Linked DNA regions of Homo sapiens. The protein of the gene in region 1 interacts with the protein of each later gene in a pairwise test. Each region holds a gene or a part of one and is shown on either strand. Other genes may lie near its edges.

The links. Proteins that work in one complex are often made in the same cells at the same time.
Region 2: the proteins of HAPLN2 (region 1) and MTUS2 interact in binary tests that used the Homo sapiens proteins (3 or more experiments, as listed by UniProt).

What each region holds. Positions count from the first base shown.
Region 1 is NC_000001.11:156,622,415-156,626,225, forward strand, and holds the end of HAPLN2 (hyaluronan and proteoglycan link protein 2 precursor), read left to right. Parts: intron 1-1,052; coding exon of another isoform or gene 1,053-1,076; coding exon 1,077-1,161; intron 1,162-1,392; coding exon 1,393-1,746; coding exon of another isoform or gene 1,747-1,750; exon of another isoform or gene 1,751-1,883; intron 1,884-1,936; coding exon 1,937-2,053; intron 2,054-2,186; coding exon 2,187-2,369; intron 2,370-2,686; coding exon 2,687-2,970; 3' UTR 2,971-3,311; downstream 3,312-3,811. UniProt on the Homo sapiens protein: Mediates a firm binding of versican V2 to hyaluronic acid. May play a pivotal role in the formation of the hyaluronan-associated matrix in the central nervous system (CNS) which facilitates neuronal conduction and general structural stabilization.
Region 2 is NC_000013.11:29,022,839-29,026,338, forward strand, and holds part of MTUS2 (microtubule-associated tumor suppressor candidate 2), read left to right. Parts: intron 1-1,618; 5' UTR 1,619-1,830; coding exon of another isoform or gene 1,831-1,860; coding exon 1,861-3,500. UniProt on the Homo sapiens protein: Binds microtubules. Together with MAPRE1 may target the microtubule depolymerase KIF2C to the plus-end of microtubules. May regulate the dynamics of microtubules at their growing distal tip.

The sequences.
Region 1 (3,811 bases):
CTGCACTCCAGTCTGGGCGAGAGAGTAAAACCCTGTCTCAAAAAAAAAAAGGTCCGCAGTCCAGCAGATCACAGTGCACTACAGTGTGGCAAACTGGGGGTGGGTAAAGGTTTCCCAAAGGAGGTGAGGCCTGTGCGACCAATGCAGGCACAAAGGAAAGGAAATGAATGCAAACTTGGACTGTGTGGGAAACTGCCAGAAATCCAGCATGTCAGGGGAACAGTGCAGAGGCCAAAGTGGTTAAGAGGCGAGGCGGGGACCATGCTGGAGGTGCAGGGAGCAACTGGATTATAGACAGCCTTGGAAGCTGTGGTTATGAGATTGGATTTTATCCTCAGGGCAACTGGGAGTCACTTTCAAGCAGGAGAGTGACAAGGCCAGGCACGGTGGCTCACGCCTGCTGTAATCCCAGCACCAGCCTTGTCAACACAGCATGACCTTGTCTCTACTAAAAACTTAAAAAGAAACAATTAGCTGGGTGTGGTGGCACATGTCTGTAGTTCCAGCTACTCAGGAGGCTGAAATGGGAGGATCACCTGGAGCTGGAAGTTAGGGGCTGCAGTGAGCCATGATCATGCCACGGGACTCCAGCCTGGACCATGGAGCAACACTCTGTCTCAAAAAAATAAATAAATAAATAAATAAATAAATAAATAAATAAATAAAATAAAAAAGCAGGAGAGTGATAAGATCATTTTGACTCTGGCTTCAAGATGGAGAATGGGTGTTGGGAGAGGATAGAGACGAGCTGGCAGTCCAGATGGCAAGCTTGGGAAGTAGCACTTGTGATGAGGGGGACAGGTAGAGAAGATGCTAAATTAGTACCTGCAGGCTGAGAGGATGTGACAGAGGAAGAGAGGGAGAGGAAGGGGATTGCTACTGCCTTCTTCCCCTCATCACCTTCATTTTGTCACCAACCCCTTTTCTCTGCCCCAGTGGCTTCCAGCTGGACAGTCCCTTCTAGGATCTCTGATGGGAGTTCACCCACAACCCTGCTCTTCCCCACCCTTTTGCCCCAGTCCTAAGAACTGCCCACTCTTTGTGCCCTGCAGACGGTGCCGGGCTGACCCCCCATCATGCCAGGCTGGCTCACCCTCCCCACACTCTGCCGCTTCCTTCTTTGGGCCTTCACCATCTTCCACAAAGCCCAAGGAGACCCAGGTAAGACCCCAGCCCAGGCCAGAATCTGGGGGAGGCTTGGGGAGACTGCAAGGGTGGGGAAAGGGGAAAGGGCAGTTGTTGCAGGTACCCAGGGACTGAAAGTCATTGCTGAGAAGGCAATGGAGGAGAGGGTTGGGGGGCTCTGGAGAAAGCATTTGGGGAGCAGGGTCTGATGGGCACTTGGGGCAGTGAGGATTGGGGGTTCCTGCCACTGTGGCCCCCTCTGCCCAGCATCCCACCCGGGCCCCCACTACCTCCTGCCCCCCATCCACGAGGTCATTCACTCTCATCGTGGGGCCACGGCCACGCTGCCCTGCGTCCTGGGCACCACGCCTCCCAGCTACAAGGTGCGCTGGAGCAAGGTGGAGCCTGGGGAGCTCCGGGAAACGCTGATCCTCATCACCAACGGACTGCACGCCCGGGGGTATGGGCCCCTGGGAGGGCGCGCCAGGATGCGGAGGGGGCATCGACTAGACGCCTCCCTGGTCATCGCGGGCGTGCGCCTGGAGGACGAGGGCCGGTACCGCTGCGAGCTCATCAACGGCATCGAGGACGAGAGCGTGGCGCTGACCTTGAGCTTGGAGGGTGAGGCCCTTCCGCTCCCGCCCCATTCCTGTGTAGCAGCGGGTCCGCCTCGCCTGGGTCTCCCAGGGCTCCTTCCCAGTATCTCCTCCGCACCCCTGGGGACCCCAGCTCCCTCTCCCAGGCCGCGCCGCCCTTCCTCCCCCTCCGCTCCCATCCGCTGGCCCTCCCCAGGATCCCCGCCACCCCCTAGGTGTGGTGTTTCCGTACCAACCCAGCCGGGGCCGGTACCAGTTCAATTACTACGAGGCGAAGCAGGCGTGCGAGGAGCAGGACGGACGCCTGGCCACCTACTCCCAGCTCTACCAGGGTGAGCGGCCGAACCCAGCACTTCCCAAGCCCCGCGGAGCTGTCTCAGGGGCCCGAGAGAGGGCGCCAGGCGAGCTCAGTCTGGCTCCTGCCTATGACGCCTCTTATCCCCGACCTCCGCCGTCTCCCGCCAGCTTGGACCGAGGGTCTGGACTGGTGTAACGCGGGCTGGCTGCTCGAGGGCTCCGTGCGCTACCCTGTGCTCACCGCACGCGCCCCGTGCGGCGGCCGAGGCCGGCCCGGGATCCGCAGCTACGGACCCCGCGACCGGATGCGCGACCGCTACGACGCCTTCTGCTTCACCTCCGCGCTGGCGGGTGAGGCGCGGGACGAAGGCAGGGTCTTGGGGAGGGGTCTGAAAAATGTGGGGGACGAGGAGTGGACCTCAGCTTGAGATCAGGGCAGGGTCTCCGGGTCCCTCCAAGGCACCGCCCCCCCATCAGCCCGCCCGCCCGCCCAGGCTCCAGCTCACCTCTCCAAACCCTCCCTGCACTTTTGCCTCGATCCCCCAACTCCTCTTACCCAAGCTCGATCCAGCACCTCTGCGGTCCCGCACCCCAACTCCGCCTCCTGGGTGTCAGCCGCCCCTCTCCGCCCACCCTGCCCTCGGTCGGTGACCCGCTGTGGTCCCCAGGCCAAGTGTTCTTCGTGCCCGGGCGGCTGACGCTGTCTGAAGCCCACGCGGCGTGCCGGCGACGCGGCGCCGTGGTGGCCAAGGTTGGGCACCTCTACGCCGCCTGGAAGTTTTCGGGGCTAGACCAGTGCGACGGCGGCTGGCTGGCTGACGGCAGTGTGCGCTTCCCAATCACCACGCCGAGGCCGCGCTGCGGGGGGCTCCCGGATCCCGGAGTGCGCAGTTTCGGCTTCCCCAGGCCCCAACAGGCAGCCTATGGGACCTACTGCTACGCCGAGAATTAGGCGCCCACCGTGTCCCCTCCAGCGCGCGCGAAGAAGCTTGGGAGTCGTGGCGGGGGTCTCTCGCCACCCCTTTCCGGAGAGCCTCCCCTCCCTCCAGACCCGGAGCGGCCTCTCCAGACCTGCCTTCCCAGCCGGGGGCTGCGGGCCTCGGACCCCGGCTGGCCCGGCGGCGGGGAGGGGAGGCGGGGGCGCCTCCGGCGGCGAGATGCAGAGGTGACCCTCGGACCCGCTGCCGTTCGCGAACCCTAGCAGAGGACTCAGCCACCGCCGGGGGGAGGGTGAGGCGGCCGGGGGCATTAACTGACCTCTGAGTACAGCAATAAAATAACCTGGGGATCTTTTGTGTTGGGTGGAGCTGTAAGAGCTGCGAGGCGTGGAGGGGTGTGTGTGTGTGTGTGTGCACGCTCATGTCGGGGCTGATGACCCGGGATCCTGCGTGCCCACTGAGCACCTAAGACAGGGTAAGGGGCAGGGCTGTTGCTGTTAAGGGATGGGTCAGCGGAAGAGCGGGAGTGCGGCCGGAGGGCACCAATAGGCCAAGGGAGAGAGAGAAGTGGAGACGTAGTGGGCGCCTGGCCCAGGACCCACGCAGAACCCAGCATGTTGTTGCGCCAGGCGCCACGCGGGGGCGCCGCACACTCACCTAAGATTAGTTCAAATCTGCCAGGGGCGCCCCATGCCACCAGGCCCACCCTATGTGCCCCAGATAACAAATATAAGACAACTTAAACATATTTCAAAATGTGCAGGCTGCAGACCTCCCTGAAGCGTTTGCGGGGACTACTGTTAAAGATAGGAAAGTCATATTGTTGCTAGAATTGACAGGAAATTAACCTTGCGT
Region 2 (3,500 bases), on another chromosome or scaffold:
AGATTTTAAACTCTTTGGGGGCAGAAATAACGCTGATCTTCCTCATCATTCATTTGGACATTTATTCATTCATTTGTGCTGCAAATACATAATACGTGCCTAATATGTATGCCAGGTATTAGACAATATTTATTTTCAGTGTCTAGCAAATCTGAAAGTCTTTTTTTAATTCTTCAAAGTGAAAATACAGGATACTACAAATCCATCATTATAGGATGACCTAGTGAGGAACGCTTCCTGGAGGAAGTGGTAGTTATGTTGCATATTGAAGGATGCAAAGGACTTGTAAGATGAGGTTGGGGGAGGATTCCACATTCCATGCAGATGGAAGAGTATGCGCAAAGGCCCTGAGGCAGAGAGTAATGAACATGGTACTGTGAGGAATGAGGCCAATGTGGCTGCAGCCTGCAGAGCAGAGGGTGAGGTGGGGTTGAGGCCAGAAAGGTGTTCAGGGCCTGATCATGCAGGCCTCGAAGGCCAGAGTAAAGCATTTCCCCCAAGTTTTTATTTTGGAAAATTTCAAACCTATAGAAAAGTTGCAGATGTAATAGAATTATTACCTAGATTTTCAAATGGTTGACTTTTGCCAGTTTCTCTCTTTTACTCTTTCTCCTTCTCATATGCACACACACATACATACACGTTTTTCTTGGTCGAATCATTTGAGAATAAGTTAGAAAAATCATGACATACTACCTCTGAATTCTAAAGCATGTATATTTCAAGAACCAAATTAATCTCTGGCATAATTATAGCACGATTACACACCCAAGAAAATTAATTATAAAATACCTGTACCTTATATACAGTCCATATTTAAATCTCTAATTGTCCTAATAATATCCTTTGCTAACATGTTTTGAAAATCCAGGCTCCGCTGACATTTTTTGGGACCAGTTAGGCCAGTTATTTTGCAATACATACCTCAATTTAAATTTGCCAGATTATTGTCTCATGGTTAAATTCTGGTTGAACATTAACTACTGCATAGGTGATGTGTGGCCCTGAGAACTAACTAATATCAGGAGTCCGTAATGTCAGTTTCATTACTAGTGATGTTAAATTTGATCACGTGGTTAATGTGGTGTCTACCAGATCTCTCCATTGTAAAGATAAAATTTTCGTTTTGTAAGAAATGAAGTAGCCTGGGGGAAGATACTTTAAGCATCTATGAATATCTTGTTCCCCAACAATCTTTTACCCAATGTTTGTACCTTTGGCATCCCTTGTGTAAGATAATTATGAATGTAGCGATTGCAAAATAGTGATTTTTCAAATTCTATAATTTTTTTCTACATTCGTTGATATTCTTCTGTAAAGAAGAGCCCTTACTTCTCCTCCATCCTTTTAAATCAGTATCAGTATAGACTTGTGGATGTTTAAAATTTAGATTTAAGATCTCACATGCATTTATAATCCATTTCTAACATTAAACATTTTGATGTTTAATTTTTGTATTTGGCCAGGAGGAGCCCTGATCAGAAAGGTTTTTTGAGAAAACTATTGATTGAATGAAATAATAATATAGAAATGACAAATAAATCTGTGTTTACCACTTTTTTCTCCTGAGAAGTTCTATTTGTCAATCTAATGTGAATATATTTTTATTTCTCTCTAGGTCTCATGGACTGATTGGCTCTCATTCAGCAGGAACCTAACAGATAAGTCTTCCTGCTGTATATCAAGACAATGCTTGGTTTTCAAGCTGTTCTGAGAATGATTAAAGCAGTGTCGCAAGGTGACATTGTCAGGGGAGAACAAGCAGCTTGAGAATTTCCTCTTAATCTGATTGCAGCTTGAAGGCAGCCCATTTCCATTAAGTAGGACTGCATGGCAAGCAGCCCCACCAAAGGGTTGACAATGAGCGTCCCAGTGGCTCCTAAGAAATCATGTTACACTCAGTTGCGGGACAACAGAAATGCAGCAAGAAATAATAATGAAAGCATCTTAAGTCTGGGAGATACGAATGCCAATCAAATCATGTTGGAGGTCAGCTCCTCTCATGACGAGTCCAAGACATGTGACCTGGGAGATGAAATTGGAAATACAAATTCAAGTGAGCCAGAAAACCGTACCCATTTCCATAAGGAATTTCACCAACTTCAGGGCTTTGGGAAAGGCTCTCAGGCTGGCTCTGCCAGCCTGAAAGATTTTAGACTTTCTTCAACCATTCAGAGGGAACTCAATGAAGAGCACACAGTGGAGAGAGGCACAGATAGCCTGCAGACCACGCGGAGTATTCAGGGACCAAGTCTGTCGAGTTGGAGGAATGTGATGAGTGAGGCCAGTCTAGACGTTTTGGCTAAAAGGGATGCTGAAATTCCCCGGCATGTTCCCAAGGATAAACTGGCAAAGACCCTTGACAATGAGGAACTGAGGAGGCATTCTTTGGAAAGAGCAAGCAGCTCTGTAGCTGCAGTCGGGAGCCTGACTCCGCAGCATCCACAGCCTCTATCCCTCGACTCCCGGGAAGCACGGGGTCAGATACCTGGGGGTGGGGAGGGGCCACAGAAGACATTGCCAGACCACGCTGTCCCGGCAGCTTTCCCTGCAACTGACAGTACCTCAGAGGGAAAGAGTGTGCGTCATCCTAAACCATCTACCTCAGAAAGCAAGCAGAGCACTCCCTCAGAGACCCAAACAGTGGGGGCACATGTACTGCAGGTGTGCAGTGAGCACACATCACATTCCGCCCATCCAGAGCCTGCTCTGAATTTGACTTTGGCATCGAAGGAAATCCCAAGTAAACTGGAAGCACAATTAGGTCAGGGAAAGGGAGAGGCCAAGCTGGATCTGAAATATGTTCCTCCCAGGAGAGTTGAACAGGAGGGAAAGGCAGCCCAGGAAGGGTATCTGGGATGCCACAAGGAAGAGAATCTGTCAGCCTTGGAGGGAAGGGATCCATGTGGGGAAGCACACCCGGAAGCCACCGATGCACTTGGCCATCTGCTGAACAGTGACCTCCACCACCTTGGGGTGGGAAGAGGCAACTGTGAAGAGAAGAGAGGAGTCAACCCAGGGGAGCAGGATTCTCTCCACACCACCCCCAAACAGGGCTCTGCTTCCTTAGGAGGGGCTGATAATCAGCCCACTGGCAAAATTTCACCATGTGCAGGTGAGAAGTTGGGTGAAAGGACATCCAGCAGCTTTTCACCAGGTGACAGTCATGTGGCTTTTATTCCTAATAATCTGACTGACAGCAAGCCCTTGGATGTCATTGAGGAGGAAAGGCGGTTGGGCAGTGGGAATAAGGACAGTGTTATGGTTTTGGTGTTCAATCCTTCTGTTGGAGAGAACAAGACGGAGGTGCCTGAGCCCCTGGACCCTCAAAGTGGCCGCTCAGAAGCACGGGAAAGCAAAGAGGTCACCACATCTGTTGCTGAAAACAGGAACCTTCTAGAGAATGCAGATAAGATTGAAAGCACCTCAGCAAGAGCAGATTCAGTTCTCAATATTCCAGCACCCCTCCACCCAGAGACAACTGTGAACATGACCTACCA